Regions from separate parts of the Homo sapiens genome. Here region 1 is linked to region 2. The links come from fine-mapping of genetic effects on gene expression. Tissue or cell type: whole blood. Region 2 holds a variant in brackets; the other region holds the start of a gene. All regions are shown on one strand. Distances are between the middles of the regions.

Evidence for each region. PIP is the estimated chance that this variant, and not a neighbour inherited with it, causes the effect.
Region 1: NDUFC2 starts here. The variant in region 2 is fine-mapped to the expression of NDUFC2 in whole blood (TOPMed, PIP above 0.99).

What each region holds. Positions count from the first base shown.
Region 1 is chr11:78,076,401-78,084,505 of GRCh38, forward strand. It overlaps NDUFC2 (NADH:ubiquinone oxidoreductase subunit C2), which reads right to left and starts at 3,462. Exons shown (of 3, transcript NM_004549.6): 1 at 3,179-3,462. The coding sequence starts at 3,344. It overlaps NDUFC2-KCTD14 (NDUFC2-KCTD14 readthrough), which reads right to left and starts at 3,462. Exons shown (of 3, transcript NM_001203262.2): 1 at 3,179-3,462. The coding sequence starts at 3,344. LOC105369401 (a long non-coding RNA gene) reads left to right here and starts at 4,795. Exons shown (of 3, transcript XR_950342.2): 1 at 4,795-5,041; 2 at 6,930-7,132. RefSeq lists an enhancer at 3,182-3,241 and a silencer at 3,445-3,634.
Region 2 is chr11:78,179,024-78,187,128 of GRCh38, forward strand. The region is part of intron 1 of KCTD21 (potassium channel tetramerization domain containing 21); the gene reads right to left. Among named protein-coding and RNA genes, the nearest start is that of KCTD21, 5.6 kb to the right of the region's middle. RefSeq lists an enhancer at 424-923. The variant G/C (reference allele first, on the strand shown) is at 4,416.

The DNA.
Region 1 (8,105 bases), 100 kb before region 2:
CAAAATGTTGGGATTACAGGCATGAGCCACCACACGTGACCTCACTCAATACTTACTGAACACCTACTATAGATATTAGACACTGAGCTAGATAAACACAATATGCATTCAGTAAATGCTGTTGAGGACAACCATTTCAACAAAGTCCTAGGACCTAAATCTTCCAAAGCAATTTAGGGAAGCTCTGGGAACTCAGGAAGTCTGATCCCTACTCCTGGGCTAAGCAGTTTATATTCATTATCTCATCCAGTCCTCAGAGATAGGTAACTTCCTCAGAATCAAATTACTAGTAGGGTGGAGGTGATGTCAAACCCCAAAGCATATGCTCTTAACTGCTATACTCTTCTGTCTCCCAGAAAGGCACAAACGGCTAAACTAACAACGAGATTAAGTGGTACATACGTCACATTTCAGCCAACCTTTACTTCCTCTAGAGCATTCTCCCTCCCAACTGTATCTCCTTTGTGCTCCTAAAGTGCTTTCTGCTCACCCACCTCTATCAAAACATGTATCTATCATACCAAGATCAGCAACAGGCTGTTTACCTGTTTGTCTCCCTGATTTCACTAGGAGCTCCATAGGGCACATAACAGAGAAACAGTTAAGTAAGGCCAGGCACAGTGGCTCACACCTATAACCCCAGCACTCTGGGAGGCCGAGGTGGCAGGATCACTTGAGGCCAGAAGTTTGAGACCAGCCTGGCCAAGATGGCAAGACCCCATCTCTACAAAAAATTTTAAAATTGGCCAGGCCTGGTGGTATGTACCTGTAGTCCCAGCTACTTGGAAGGCTAGGATAGGAGGATCGCCTGAGCCCAGGAGGTCGAGGCTGCAGTGAGCCATGAGTGCACCACTGCCCTCTAGCCTGGGTGACAGAGTGAGACCCTGTCTCAAAAAAAAAAAAAGGGTTCTGTAAATGAACAATTTACAAATATATGGTAAACTGTTTGCATAACAAGAGCTAAGGAAGGGGAACTCTGTCCAGCACCTTTTGCATGTCAGACATTTTACCTACAGAATCTCACTCAATTCTCACAACAAATATGCAAAAATTAATTATTCTTATTTTATAGATGAGGAAACTTTGGCTCTGATCGACCTGACCATGTAACTTGCCCAAAGTGACACAGCTGGAAAGCAGCAGAGCAAGTCTGTTTATTTATTTATTTATTGGAGACAAGGTCTCAACTTTGTTGCCCAGGCTGGAGTGCAGTGGTGCAATCGTGGCTCGCTGCAGCCTCAACCTCCTGGGCTCAAGTGATTCTCCTCCCTTAGCTTCCTGAGTACCTGGGACTACAAGTGCACATCACCATGCCTGGCTAATTTTTTAAATTTTTTTGTAGAGACAGGGTCTCACTATGTTGCCCAGGCTGGTCTTGAACTCCTGGCCTCAAGAGATGTTCCTGCCTTGGTCTCCCAAAGTGCTGGGATTACAGGTGTGAACCACAGTGCCTGTGCCTAGTGAGCAAGTTTGTTTAGTTCCAAAGTGGAGCTCTTTTCATTACACCAAGTGACAGTCTTGGGCAAATATGAAGTGGTGATGAAAAGGGAAAACCTCGAGTCCTCAGAGGCATAAACGGACAAAGATGACTCCTTTCTGAAGTGAGGAGTTATGTCCAAGGGAGATAGGACTTCAATACTATTTGAGCACTGGAAATGTGGGATTTGATGGGTTGGGAGCTGACCTTCAGGCATGACATACAGCTGTAAGAAGGCAAAAGAGGTACAAGTGTGGTGACTCCTAATTGCCTGAACCATTGCCTGAGCTTTTTTCCTGATTGTGCTTCTTGGCTCCAATCAACGCCTCACATTGCTGACAAAGATGACTTTTTAAAATACAGAGCTCATCACTGCACCCTTGCAGCTCTCAAAAGCTTACAAAGTTCCTGACTGCCTAGAAAATAAATTGCCATGCTCTGCTAAAATCTCCCTTGCAGTTTTATCTAAACCTGAACACTCACTCAATCATCAAACACCCTCCATTCAGAGGTCCTTGCCCCCATTAGCTCCCACTAGCCCCACGGGCCTAGAAAGCTGTCTGTCTCTCAGTCCTGCCTGATAATCAAAGTTAACTTCAAAGACCCCTCTTCCAAAGTTCCTCTCCTCTTTTCCCTCTGGAAATCCATAGAGCTTAGCAAAGCTACTGTGGTGGTTATTATCAGAATAGTCAGTGTCTCTGATAGGAAGCCAGTGACATACTACTGGGAAGTACAGCACACTGGTTTAGAGCCTCCTATTCAAACCGTGGTCCTCAGACCAGCAGCAGCAGTGTTTGAGCGCTTGTTGTTAACATCAAGTTCCTCCCCAGACCTCATGAATCAGGATCCGCTTTTTTTTTTTTTTTGAGACAGGGTCTCACTTTGTTGCACAGGTTGGAGTGCAATGGTGCAATCTCGGCTTACTGCAACCTCTGCCTTCCAGGCTCAAACGACCCTCCTGCCTCAGCCTCCCTCAGCCTGGGACCACAGGCGTGCACCACCACGCCCGGCTAACTTTTGTATTTTTTTGTAGGGACGGGTTTTCGCCCTATTGCCCATACTGGTATCGAATTCCTGAGCTCAGGCGATCCGCCCGCCACGGCCTCCCAAGGCGCTGGGATTACAGGTGTGAGCCACCTCGCGCAGCCCAGAATCCGAATTTTAACAAGACACCTATGCTATTCGTATGCACATTAAGTTTGAGAAGCACTGGTGTCCAATATCCATTCAGAGGTCAAAAAAAAAAAAAACCAAGCTCTGCTACTTAATAGCCATATGACCTTGGGCAAGCTGCTGTTAATCTGTTAGGCTCGGTTTCCTCGTTGTGAATAATACATCCCTAAAAGTGTTTTAAGGCCGAAATGCTATCAATAATGCCCACAGTGTGAGTAGTGCATGGCATGGAGTCATGGCTCATTTGCGCACACAGCACAACACGAACTGAGGAGAGTAGTTTCGGGTCCTTCACAGACTCAGTTCCTGCTTCACTGCACCTCAGTTTCTTCAAGTGCCAAATGACACTCTGGCTCTGCTTGATTCTAAAGAGCTAATGGGGCGCGGACTCCCCGGAAAGGCGAGATGGGGCCAGCTAGGCAAAAAGGCACGGAAAAGCAGAGCACCTCAGGGGGGCCTACGGCCGGGCCAGTCTGCAGCCCTACGACCCCTTCTCCTCCCAGCCGATCCCGGCCGCGCAGCACTCACCAGCCGTCGCGATCGGCCTCCGCCGGATTAGGTTATCAATCAGGCCGGAGCAGTAGCCCAAGAAGCCGATGTAGAGGAGCCGCGGGTCGGTCAGCTTGGGCGGGGGCAGGCTCCGGGCCTCATCCGGCAGAAACCGTAAGGGTTCTGGGTTCCGCCGTGCGATCATGGTGACGCCGTTTCCACTTGAGGCCTGGTCTCAGACCACGAACTACAAGGAAAACCACGACGACCACTACCCCGGCCTAAGCGGTCAGCTTTCTCCTCCTCCTCTGCGCGCCGGACTCACGGGCACGGCGCAGCGCGGTGCAGCGCCCAAACGCTTCCCGGTACGTGTTGCTGCGGGAACCCGGCACGCGAAGTTCCGGGCTACTAAGTTTCACTTTGCTCGTCCGCCCGCGCTAATTCTCTGGTGGGAGTGGGATTCACGGGCCTGGTAACGCGGGGTCGAGGAGTACCCCAAACGAGCCAAACTGGGCGAAGACTAGGAGATACTGATTTTCTTTTCTCCCAACTTCCCCAACCAGAATTGCCTCTCCCTCCCCTGCCCCTTCTGGAAAGATTTATCTTTTCATCCAATACCCACAAATGGGCATGATGCGTAGTTTTGATAAACGTAATTAATTGAAATTCCATAAAAGCTAGTTTTCGTTTTCTGAGTTTTCAGTCGTTCATTCGCATAGACACTCCCTCCAAAGCCTAAAATTAAGGTCTGGCCAGCAACAAAAGAATTTAGAGAAGCCCAGGACTGGATCGTTTTAGTCTATTGTTGAAATTCAGATTCGGAGGCAGCACCCTAAAATGTTTCACCTCTGGGTCTTCACGTCGTTACACATGGCTGAGTGAGGAGGTGTTCCCTAAAGGTTTGAGTAATGAGGCCAGGCGCCGTCACTCACGCCTGTAATCCCATCACTTTGGGAGGCTGAAGTGAGCGGATCACTTCAGGAGTTCAAGACCAGCTTGGCCAACATGGTGAAATCCCATCTCTACGAAAAATACAAAAAATTAGCTGGGCGTGGTGGCGGGTGCCTGTAGTCCCAGCTACTGGGAAGGCTGAGGCAGCATAATCGGCTGCTCGGGAAGCTGAGGGGGGAGAATCGCTTGAACCTGGGAGGTGGAGGTTGCAGTGAGCCGAGATCGCACCATTGCATTCCAGCCTGGTCAACAAGAGCGAAACTTCGTCTCAAAAAGAAAAAAAAAAAGGTTTGAGTAATGAAAGAAGGAATTTATAATTCTGTTAAGCAATTTTCCAGTCTCTGCTGTCAGGCCTCTCAGCCGAAGCTCAACCATTGTAACCCCTGTGACTTGCACATATGCGTCCAGATGGCCTGCGGGAGCCAAGAAGTCTGGGGCAGCCAAAAACCCACAAAAGAAGTAAAACAGCCACTTCCTGCCTTAACTGATTAACAAACATTCCACCATTGTGACTGGTCCCTGCCCTACCTTAACTGATCAACCATCCTTGTGACATTCTTCTTCTGGACAATAAGTCTTATGATCTCCCCATCATGTACCTTGTGACCCCCTCCCCTGCTAACAATAGATAACAACCACCTTTTACTGTAATTTTCCATTACCTACCTAAATCCTATAAAGCAACCCCTTCCCCATCTCCCTTCATTGATTCTCTTTTCGGACTCAGCCCACTTGCACCCAAGTGAATAAACAGCCTTGTTGCTCACACAAAGCCTGTTGGTGGTCTCTTCACACGGATGCATTTGACATTTGGTGCTATGACTTGGATCGGGGGACCTTCCTTGGGAGATCAATCCCCTGTCCTCCCGCTCTTTGCTCCGTGAGGAAGATCTACCTACGACCTCGGGTCCTCAGACCAGCCCAAGGAACATCTCACCAATTTTAAATCGGGTAAGTGGCCTCTTTCTACTCTCTTCTTCAACCTCTTTCACTATCCCTCAACCTCTTTCTCCTTTCAATTTCGGCACCACCCTTCAGTCTCTCCCTTCCCTTAATTTCGGTTCCTTTCCCTGTCTGGTAGAGACAGAGGAGACCCGTTTTATCTGTGGACCCAAAACTCTGGCGCTGGTCATGGACTCGGGAAGACTGTCTTCCCTTGTGTTTAGTCACTGCAGGGACGCCTGCCTGATTATTCACCCACATTTCAGAGGTGTTCGATCACTGCGGGGACACCTGTTTTGATCTTCCACCTTGGTGGCAAGTACCACTTCCCCTGGGTGGCAAGTACCACCCCCCCTCTCTCCATGTCTCAACCTCCTCCTTTCTCTAAACTTACCTTTTTACTATGGGCAACCTTCAGCCCTCCATTCCTTCTTCTTCCTCTCTTAGCCTGTGTTCTTAAAAACTTAAAACCTCTTCAACTCTCACCTGACCTAAAACCTAAGTGTCTTATTTTCTTCTGCAACACCACTTGGCCCCAATACAAACTTGATAATGGCTCTAAATGGCCAGAAAAGAGCACTTTCGATTTCTCCAGCCTACAAGATCTAGATAATTTTTGTCATAAAATGGGCAAATGGTCTGAGGTGCCCTACATCCAGGCATTTTTTACACTTCGTTCCTTCCCTAATCTCTGTTCCCAGTGCGACTTGCCGCAAATCTTCCTTCTTTCCCTCCCGCCTGTCCCTTCAGTCCCAACCTGAAGTGCCGGTGAGTCTTTTGAATATTTCTTTTCTACCGACCCATCTGACTTCTACCCTCCTCCCTAGACTGCTCCTCCTCAGGTCGCTCCCCACCAGGCTGAATCAGCTTCCAACTCTTCCTCAGCCTCCACTTCCCCACCCTACAACCCTTCTATCATCTCCCCTCCCCACACCTGGTCCAGCTTACAATTTCGTTCTGCGGCAAATACTCCCCCACCTGCCCAATAATTTCCTCTTCAAGAAGTGGCTGGAACTGAGGGCATCGTCAGAGTGCATGTACCATTTTCTCTATCAGACCTTTCCCAAATTAATCAACACTTAGGCTCCTTCTCGTCAGACCCCACCAAATATATACATGAATTCCAGTATTTAACCCAGTCTTACAATTTAACCTGGAGTGGCTTAAATGTCATCCTAATTTCTACCCTCTCCCCAGATGAATGGGAAAGAGTGTTTCCTCTAGCCTAGTCCCACACAGACACCCACTGGCATTATGAGCCAGGCCTCCAGGAAGGTATTACAGACGGTTCCCTGAGAAGATCCCCAGTGGCACTATCAGGCAGGTTCCTCAGGTATAGCTAGGTGAGATTACATGATTTCCTGCCTAGTTGAAGGGCTTAAAAAGGCAGCATACAAATCTGTTAATTATGACAAACTTAAAGAAACTACCCAAGGTAAAGATGAAGACCCAGCCCAGTTCATGGCCTGTTTGGTGGCTACCCTTAGATGCTTTATAGCCCTAGACCCTGAAGGGCCAGAAGGCTGTCTTATTCTTGATATGCATTTCATCACCCAGTCAGCTCCTGACATCAGAAAAAAGCTTCAAAAATTTGAATCTGGCCCTCAAACCCCACAACAGGAATTAATCAACCTCGCCTTCAATGTGTACAATAATAGAGAAGAGGCAGCCAAGCAGAAACACATTTCTGAGTTACAATTACTTGCCTCTGCTGTGAGACAAAACCCAGCTGCACCTCCGGCACACAAGAACTTCAAAATGCCTAAGCTGCAGTGGTCAGGCTTTCCTACAGGACCTCCTCCCTCAGGATCTTGCTTCAAGTGCCAGAAATCTGGCCAGTGGGCCAAGGAATGCCTGCAGCCCAGGATTCCTCCCAAGCCATGTTCCATCTGTGCAGTGACCCACTGGAAATCAGACCGCCCAGCTCACCCGGCAGCCACTTCCAGAGCCCAGCCCCTAAAGCTCTGGCCCAAGGGTCTCTGACTGACTCCTTACCAGACCTGCTCAGCTTAGTGGCTGAAGACTGACGCTGCCCAATCACCTTGGAAGCCCCCTGGACCATCATGGATGCCAAGCTTCGGGTAACTTTCACAGTGGAGGGTAAGTCTGTCCCCTTTTTAATCGATACAGGGGCTACCCACTCCACATTACCTTATTTTCAAGGACCTGTTTCCCTTGCCCACATAACCATTGTGGGTATTGACAGCCAGGCTTCTAAACCTCTTAAAACTCCCCAACTTTGGTGACAACTTGTACAACATTCTTTTATGCACTCCTTTTTAGTTATTCCCACCTGCTCAGTTCCCTTATTAGGTTGAGATGTTTTAACAAAATTATCCACCACCCTGACTATTCCTGGACGACAGCCACATCTCATTGCCACCCTTCTTCCCAACCCAAAGCCTCCTTCACTTCTTCCTCTTGTATCCCCCCACCTTAACCCACAAGTATGGGATACCTCTACTCCCTCCCTAGCAACCGATCACACACCCATTACTATCCTATTAAAACCTAATCACTCTTACCCCCCTCAGTGCCAGTGTCCCATCCCACAACAGACTTTAAAGGGACTAAAGCCTATTATCTCTCGTCTGCTACAGTATGGGCTTCTAAAGCCTCCAAACTCTCCTTACAATTCCCCCATTTTACCTGTCCAAAAACCGGACAAGTATTACAAGTTAATTCAGGATCTGTGCCTTATCAACCAAATTGTTTTGCCTATCCACTCTGTGGTGCCCAACCCGTACACTCTTTTGTCCTCAATACCTTCCTCCACAACTATTCCGTTCTTGATCTTAAAGATGCTTTTTTCACTATTCCCCTGCACCCCTCGTCCCAGCCCTCTTTGCTTTTACCTGGATTGACCCTGACACCCATCAGTCCCAGCAACTTACCTGGGCTGTACTGCCACGAGGCTTCAGGGACAGCCCTCATTCCTTCAGCCAAGCTCTTTCTCATGATTTACTTTCTTTCCACCCCTCTGCTTCTCACCTTATTCAATATATTGATGACCTTCTACTTTGTAGCCCCTCCTTTAAATCTTCTCAACAAGACACCCTCCTGCTCCTTCAAC
Region 2 (8,105 bases):
GATAAGGAGTAGCTGATAAGAACCTCAAATGGGGTACCTAAAGCCCAGAGAACTTTGTAACTGGGCCTTTGAGTTCCTTGCTCCGGCCCACTCCCACCCTGAGGAGTGCTTTCTCACTTTAATTCCTGCTTTCACTGCTTCATTCCTGCATTTCATTCCCCTGCTACTCTTTTTATTTTTACTTTTTTTTTTTTTAGTAGAGACGGGTTTCACCACGTTGGCCAGGCCGGTCTTGGACTGACCTCAAGTGATCTGCCCATCCAGGCCTCCCAAAGTGTGGGGATTACCACGTCTGCCCCTCTGCTACTTTGTTCAAAACGCCAAGGACCTGGAAAATTCCTAGTCAAGACCCTCCACCAGTAACACAGGTACCAGAAGCCTCACCTGTGCCTTCCTCTGCCCCTAACTCTGCTGTGAACTCTTCTGAGCCACCCAACTGCCTGAGGGAAGCAGCCCCGACTCTTCAGCCCTACAGTTTGTCTTGACTATCTCCTTGAACCCATCCCTATAGCTACTCCCAGAGCTCAGGCCTCATCCCTGCCCCCTGCACCCCTACATCCTCACTCGGCTCCCTGCCTTCTGTCCACCTTCCTTTCTGGTCTGCAGACTGACCTTCCTGAAGTACCGTCCCTGCCCAACCACCTTCCTCTTTCCCTCTCATGTCTAACCCTGCCCTCCACGCACGCCAGACGCCACTGAGTCAGTCTCCTTCATGCTGACACCTGCCCTGCCTTTGCTGTCCCTAGACCACCCCTGTCTACCTTCTCTACCCTCTCTGCTGTCTACCTTTCAGGCCCAGCCTATGAGTCATCACCTCTGTACTACTGTCCCCAGATCTCCACTAGGTTAACAGCTCTCCTCTCAGGGCTTCCTGGTGCCTTGCACAACCCCCTCTGGCAGCACCCAGCATTCCACCTGCAGCGATCTCCTTTGCACATGGCCCTCTTCCCTGGCTATCTCAAAATGCAGATCAGTGGACATCCATATGGGGAAAAAAAGAACCTTGGTCCATCTCTTATGCTGTTTATGAAAAATAAACTCAGAACATATCATAGACCTAAATATAAAATCTAAAACTACACAACTTCTAGGAGAAAATCTTTGCAACTGTGGATTAGGCAAAGATTTCTTGGATAGGACCTAAAAGGGACAAACCATTAAAAACATCAATAAACTAGACTTCATCCACGTAAAAAACTTCTGCTCTTCAAAAGACACTGTTAAGAAAATGAAAGAATAAGACACAGATGGAGAAAATATTTGCAAAACACCTATCTGATAAAGGATTGTTAACCAGAATATATAAAGAACTCTCAAAACTCAGTAAGAAAATAACCCAATTAAAAAACACATAAAGCTGGGTGCAGTGGCACATGCCTGTAATCCCAGCACTTTGGGAGGCTGAGGCGGGCAGATCACTTGAGGCCAGGAGTTCAAGAACAGCCTGGCCGACATGGTGAAACCCTATCTCTACTTAAACAAAAACAAAAACAAAACAACTAGACAAAAGATCTAACAAATACTCCAGCAAAGAAGATATGCAGATGACTGACAATCACATGAAAAGATGGTCAATATCATCAGTCATGAGAGTATGAAAATTGAAACCACAATTATATGCTACTATATACCTATTAGTGGCTCATATAAAAACTGACAATGCCAATTGAAGGTGAGTACATAGAACAATGGAAACCTCATACACTGCTGACAAATGGTAACCGCTGTTGAAAATAGTTTGACATATGGTATGGTTTGGCTCTGTGTCCCCACCCAAATCTCACCTTGAATTGTAATAATCCCCATGTGTCAAGGGCAGGACTAGGTGGAGATGATTGAATCATTGGGGCGGTTTTCCTCATGCTGTTCTTGTGATAGTGAGTTCTTAAGAGATCTGATGGTTTTATAAGGGGTTTCCCCCTTCGCTTGGCACTTCTCCTTGCTGCTGCCATGTGAAGAAAGACATGTTTGCTTCCCCTTCCACCATTATTTTAAGTTTCCTGAGGCCTCCCTAGTCCTGTGGAACCGTGAGTCAATTAAACCTCTTTCCTTTGTAAATTAGCCAGTCTGGGGTATGTTGTTATTAGCAGTGTGAGAATGGACTAATACAGCATACAATTATCACGTGACCCAATGACCCTACTCCTAGGTATTTATGCCGGAGAAATGGAGACATATGTCCATGCAAAGACTCATATGTGAATGTTTATGGCAGCTTATTCATAATTGCCCAAACTCAGAAACAACTAATTGTAAACAGATAAATTGCAGTACATCCATACAATAGAATATGACTCAGCAATATATAGGAACTACTAAAAGACATTACCACATACATGAATTTCAAAAGCATTACGTCAAGTGAAAGAAGCCAGCCTCAGAAGGTTACATGGTACATGACTCTATCTGTATAACGTTCTGGCAAAGGCAAAACTATAAAGACAGAAATCAGATTAAGTGAATTCTTGGGGCTGGGTTGGAGGGAAAAGACTGGTTACAAAGAAACACAAGGCATATTTTGGAGTGATGGGAATATTCTATTAGGTTGGCACAAAAGTAATATGATGTGGTGGTGGTCAAATGTGTTTATAAAGACTGTCAAAATTCATGTAACCATACACATCTAAAAGGGTGAATTGTGGCCAGCTGTGGTGGTTCATGCCTATAATCCCAGTACTTTGAGAGGCCGAGGCAGGAGGGTCACTTGAGCCCAGGAGTTCAAGACCAGCCTGGAAAACATAGTAAGACCCCTGTCTCAATTAAAAAAAAAGTGTAAATTTTACCATACTTAAGTTTTACCTCCATAAACAGGAAAAAAAATGAAGGTTGTGACCTATTGGCAAGTCATGACATCAATACAGTTAAGTGGGTTGTAACCAATTATATATTGTTGTGAAACTTTTGTTTCAGTTGTGTGTCTATGAACTGGATCATGGTATCTTCATACTGTGGCTGACAAAACAATTTTTTTTGGAAACCACTGCCTAGTTTGTGAGCTGAGAGCAACTGCATGTCTCACGTCTGCATAGTCACCGCCTTGCACTCAGGGGAGGGGTTGTGTGATACTGTGATATAATAAGCAATATACATTTTAGATTTGTCCCCAGCTGTTGGCCAGGGCTAAAAACTGTGTAATTTCCCAAGTGATAATAGCTATAGGAACTTCTTCTATTTTAATAATTGGTTTTGTCCCAGTAGGTGGAGGTTGCAGTGAGCCAAGACTGTGCCACTGCACTCTGGTTTGGGTGACAGAGCCAGGCCTTATCCCAAAGCACCCCCCCCCCCTCAAAATTAATTATAGTTGTTATGCTATCCTAATCCAAATCCCAATAGTATTTTTCAAAAAAGATTTAAATAATTAAAATTTTAATCTGGAAGCACTGATGACTGATAACCTGAAAGAGTATTTGAATAAGACATCTTAGCGCAATGTATTAAACTAGATTATAAAGCAATGACATTTCCCTCTGTGGTTTTAAAACAATGAGAAGAGAAGGAATTTGGTAATAAATGTGAAGAGACACAACTAGCAATGTTTAAAAATAAACATATTGATAAATATATTGATCCTTACAACTCTGGGACCCAGGCAGGACCGATTACATTGTCTTTGTTTCAAAGACAACCTAAAGCAGACCCAAAGAGCGTGAATCCCTTGCCCAGGGCTTCATGTGGATTCTTGACCTCAGAGTCATGGCCTCTGGGAAGTTCTGGTTTGGACACCCTTCAGAGAACCAGTCCTTTAGACGTCTTCGGCAGGAAGCTGAACCCAGCCACAGAGGTCCTAGCCAACAGTCTGTATACTCATGGCGACCTGGAGTAGGCAAGAGCTCTTTTCTGTGCAATTTCCTTTTTTCCTACATTACTGTCCACTTCCATAATGAGCATTACTTCCATAATGAAATGACTTACCATGCAATCCTGTCAGTGGGGACTAGCTGTTGTAACAATAAATGTACTGAGTAATGAAAATTGTCCATCTATCATCTATCTATCAATCACCTATCCATCATTTCCTAGCTCTGCTCACTCACAGAGCCTAGAAATGACACCCAGTAGCAATAAACACACCTAGCCCTGGATCTTTGTTTCTGAATGTCATCATCTCTTCTAAAAGAAACCAGGGCTTCCTGGAGAAACTGATGATTCCTGGACTTTCACAGGAAAAGTTCAAGGTGAGTTCATATAGCCCAGTGAATTAAAAAACAACAACAACAAAACAAGAGTCCAGGCTGGGTGCGGTAGTTCATGCCTGTAATCTCAGCACTTTGGGAGGCCGAGGCGGGCGGATCACCTGAGGTCTGGAGTTCAAGACCAGCCTGGCTAACATGGCAAAACCCCATCTCTACTAAAAATACAAAAAATAGCTGGGCGGGGTGGCGTGCGCCTGTTATTCCAGCTACTTGGGAGGCTGA[G/C]GCAGGAGAATCGCTTGAATCTGGGAAGTGGAGGTTGCAGTGAGCCAAGATCGTGCCACTGCACACCAGCCAGGGCAACAGAGTGAGACTCCATCTCAAAAACAAACAAACAAAAAACAAGAGTCCATAATGTTATTCCCAAAAGAAAAAAGAGGGTGAGAAGAAGGGAGTGAGAAAGATAGAGACAGGAAAAATTAATTCTTTTTTTTTTTTTTTGAGACGGAGTCTCACTGTCGCCCAGGCTGGAGTGCAGTGGTGTGATTTCGGCTCACTGCAACCTCCGCCTCCCAGGGTTCACGCCATTCTCCTGCCTCAGCCTCCCGAGTAGCTGAGACTACAGGCGCCCGCCACCTCGCTCGGCTAATTTTTTGTATTTTTAGTGGAGACAGGGTTTCACCTTGTTAGCCAGGATGGTCTCGATCTCCTGACCTCGTGATCCGCCCGCCTCGGCCTCCCAAAGTGCTGGGATTACAGGCGTGAGCCACCGCACCCGGCCAGGAAAAATTAATTCTATAAAAAAGAACACTAATAAACACAGAAGGAATGGCAGAATTAGAAAATTACCAATTTGCAACCCTCAGTGTTGTAATTCAAGCAAGGATCATCCAAGGATGTGGTGTGAAAGGTTATCAGGAACACATAATTATAACAGACTCAGAGAATCACTTCACAGATTACTTATTAATTGTAAGAGAGAAAAATTTACCTTTACGATAGAGAGATCAGGTTGCCATGACCTTAATAATCAAATTTAGCATTCATGGATAGTAAGACCCTGACATCATATCCTCCTGACATGCAGTAAGTACACACATTGCCAAAAACTTAAATCTAACCCCAATCTAATCATTGATAAACCAATCAAACATATTTAAATAGGTGGAGAAGCTCTATTTATTTATTTATTTATTTATTTGAGATAGAGTCACACTCTGTTGCCCAGGCTGGAGTGCAGTGGCACAATCTCGGCTCACTGCAACCTCCACCTCCTGAGTTCAAGCAATTCTCTTGCCTCAGCCTCCTGAGTAGCTGGGAGTATAGGCACACACCACCATGTCCGGCTAATTTTTGTATTTTTACTTGAGATGGGGTATCACCATGTTGGCCAGGCTGGTCTCGAACTCCTGACCTCAAGTGATCTGCCCACCTCAGCCTCCCAAAATGTTGGGATTACAGACATGAGCTACCATGCCAAGGGGCTCTATTTAGATTAAATGAGTTGATAAAAGAGATATAATAGGATGCAATATGTACATCTTGACTGGATCTGATTTTAAAAACCAGAAACTATATAAGGTATTTTTGGGCAATTAGAATTTTTTTTTTCTTGAGACAGGGTCTCACTCTGTCGCCCAGGCTGGAGTGCAGTGGCGCGATCATGGTTCACTGCAGCCTTGACATCCCCAGGCTCAGGTGATTTTCCCAAGTAGCTGGGACTACAGGTGCACGCTACCACACCATGCTAAATTTTGTAGTTTTTGTAGAGATGGGGTTTCACTATGTTGCCCAGGCTGGCCTTGAACTCCTGGGCTCAAGCAATCTGTCTGCCTTTGCTTCCCAAAGTGCTGGGGTTATAGACATGACCCATTGCACCTGGCAGAAAATTTTGAATAACTATTACATTGGGTAATACTGACTTCTTGCTTATTACATATAATGTATTATGGCTATGTAGTAGAACGCCCTTATTAGGGGATACATGTTGAAGAATTTAGGGGTCAAACGTCAATCAACATATCTGTAACTTACTTTTAAATAATTGGGCCAAAAAAGTGTGTGTTTGTGTAAAAGCACAATTGGCAAATTGTGATTTGGCGTATCTAGGTTAAGGGTTGTACTTTAAGCTTTTATGTAAGCTTGAAAATTTTAAAAATATTTGTATTTTAAAAGAGGGGGGAAGAACACTTCTTCATAGGGCCAATAGATGTAAAGTTACAGTCATTGTGCCAGACCCCAATAAGTCGCCAGATTTAGTAAGTTACAGATTTACTACTACTACTTAGAAGTGTGAAAAGCTCATAATTTTCCTTCCCAAGTGTTTCTGAATTTTGAAGGGTGAGGATGCCAACCAGGGCTAAGTGGTGGAGGAGTTAGAATCTAAGCCTGGGTGGGCAGTCTGGATAGAGCCACCACCCACAGAAACCACACCACTAGGCCTATTTTTTTTTTTTGAGATAGAGTCTCGCTCTGTCACCCAGTTTGGAGTGCAGTGGCGTGATCCTGGCTCACTGCGACCTCTGCCTCCCAGGTTCAAGTGATTCTCCTGCCTCAGCCTCCTGAGTAGCTGGGATTTCAGGTGCGTGCCACCATGCCCGGCTAATTTTTGTATTTTTAGTAGAGACGGGGTTTCACCACGTTGGCCAGGCTGGTCTCAAGCTCCTGACCTCAAATGATCCACCCACCTCAGCCTCCCAAAGTGCTGGGATTACAGGCGTGAGCCACCGCGCCCGGCCAGGTCTGCCTATCTTCTGTGCTGTGATTCTGCCTGGAAGAAGATGGCTGTTCAGGCCTTGTTTTTCCTGCCTCATCATGAACCCAGAATCTCTGTAACTCGGCAGGAAAGAAACTCCTGTCATGACTCACTGTGAATGTTGACAAAGAGAGGCCACTCCTGGGCCTCAGAAATGTCAAGGATGGGCAGAAAGAACTGGAGACAGGCCAGGCTCAGTGGCTCATGCCTGTAATCCCAGCACTTGGAAGGCCCAGGTGGGAGGATCGCTTGAGTTCAGGAGTTTGAGACCACCTGGACAACATAATGAGACCTCGTTTCTATAGAGAAAAAAAAAAATTAGCTGGGCATGGTAACACGTGCTTGCAGTCCCAGCTGCACAGGCTGAGGTAGGAGGATCGCTTGAGCCTGGGAGGTCAGGCTGCAGCAAGCCGAGATCACGCCACTGCACTCCAGCTTGGGCAACAGAGTAAGACCCTGTCTCAAAAAAAAAAAAAAAAAAAAAAAAAAAAAAAAAAAAGAAAAGAACTGGAGAGGCTGTGTGGGGTAGGGGCAGACCATGCATGGTATTCGGCATTACCTGGGTTTGCATTTGAATCATCCCCTGCCACTTACTAGCTGTGCAGCCCTGGGCACGTTCCTGGGCAGATGATGATGATCATAACAACAACAAACACTACAACGGCAATAATAATGGCTAACGTTTATTGAGCAGTTACTACCGTGCTAGGCACTCTATACATGTTAATCTCTTTCAATCTCACAGATTAAGTAGATACTATTATATACCTACTTTACAGACCAACCATACTGGGCCCTCTTCGACTTCTGCAATTTGGCATCTGCCATCCCCTCTGCCTGGACCTTGAAGACAAATCCCATGCATCGGCCAGGTCTCTCAGCTGGAATTCATTCCTTCTCCTCTGCATCTGCGGAGAATTTTAGTCTAACCCCTTACCACAGCCAACTTTACTTAAGTAGATGGATGCCTGGCTCCCTTGCTGGGGCTGGGGGTGCCCCTTTCTATATCCACAGAAGCACGTAGAATAGGGGAAGAGGAAGAAATTTCTCTCCTGTTTAGTCAGATCCATTTTCCCCACCTGGATTTTCAAAACTTTTTAATTTTGAAATGCTCTGTTCAATTTTCAATCTGGAATCTAAAGGGATGTGACAAGGCCGAGGTGATTACTTGGGAGTAAATGCAAGGAGAGTTTCCACTGCGTAAGGGAATGGACAGCACG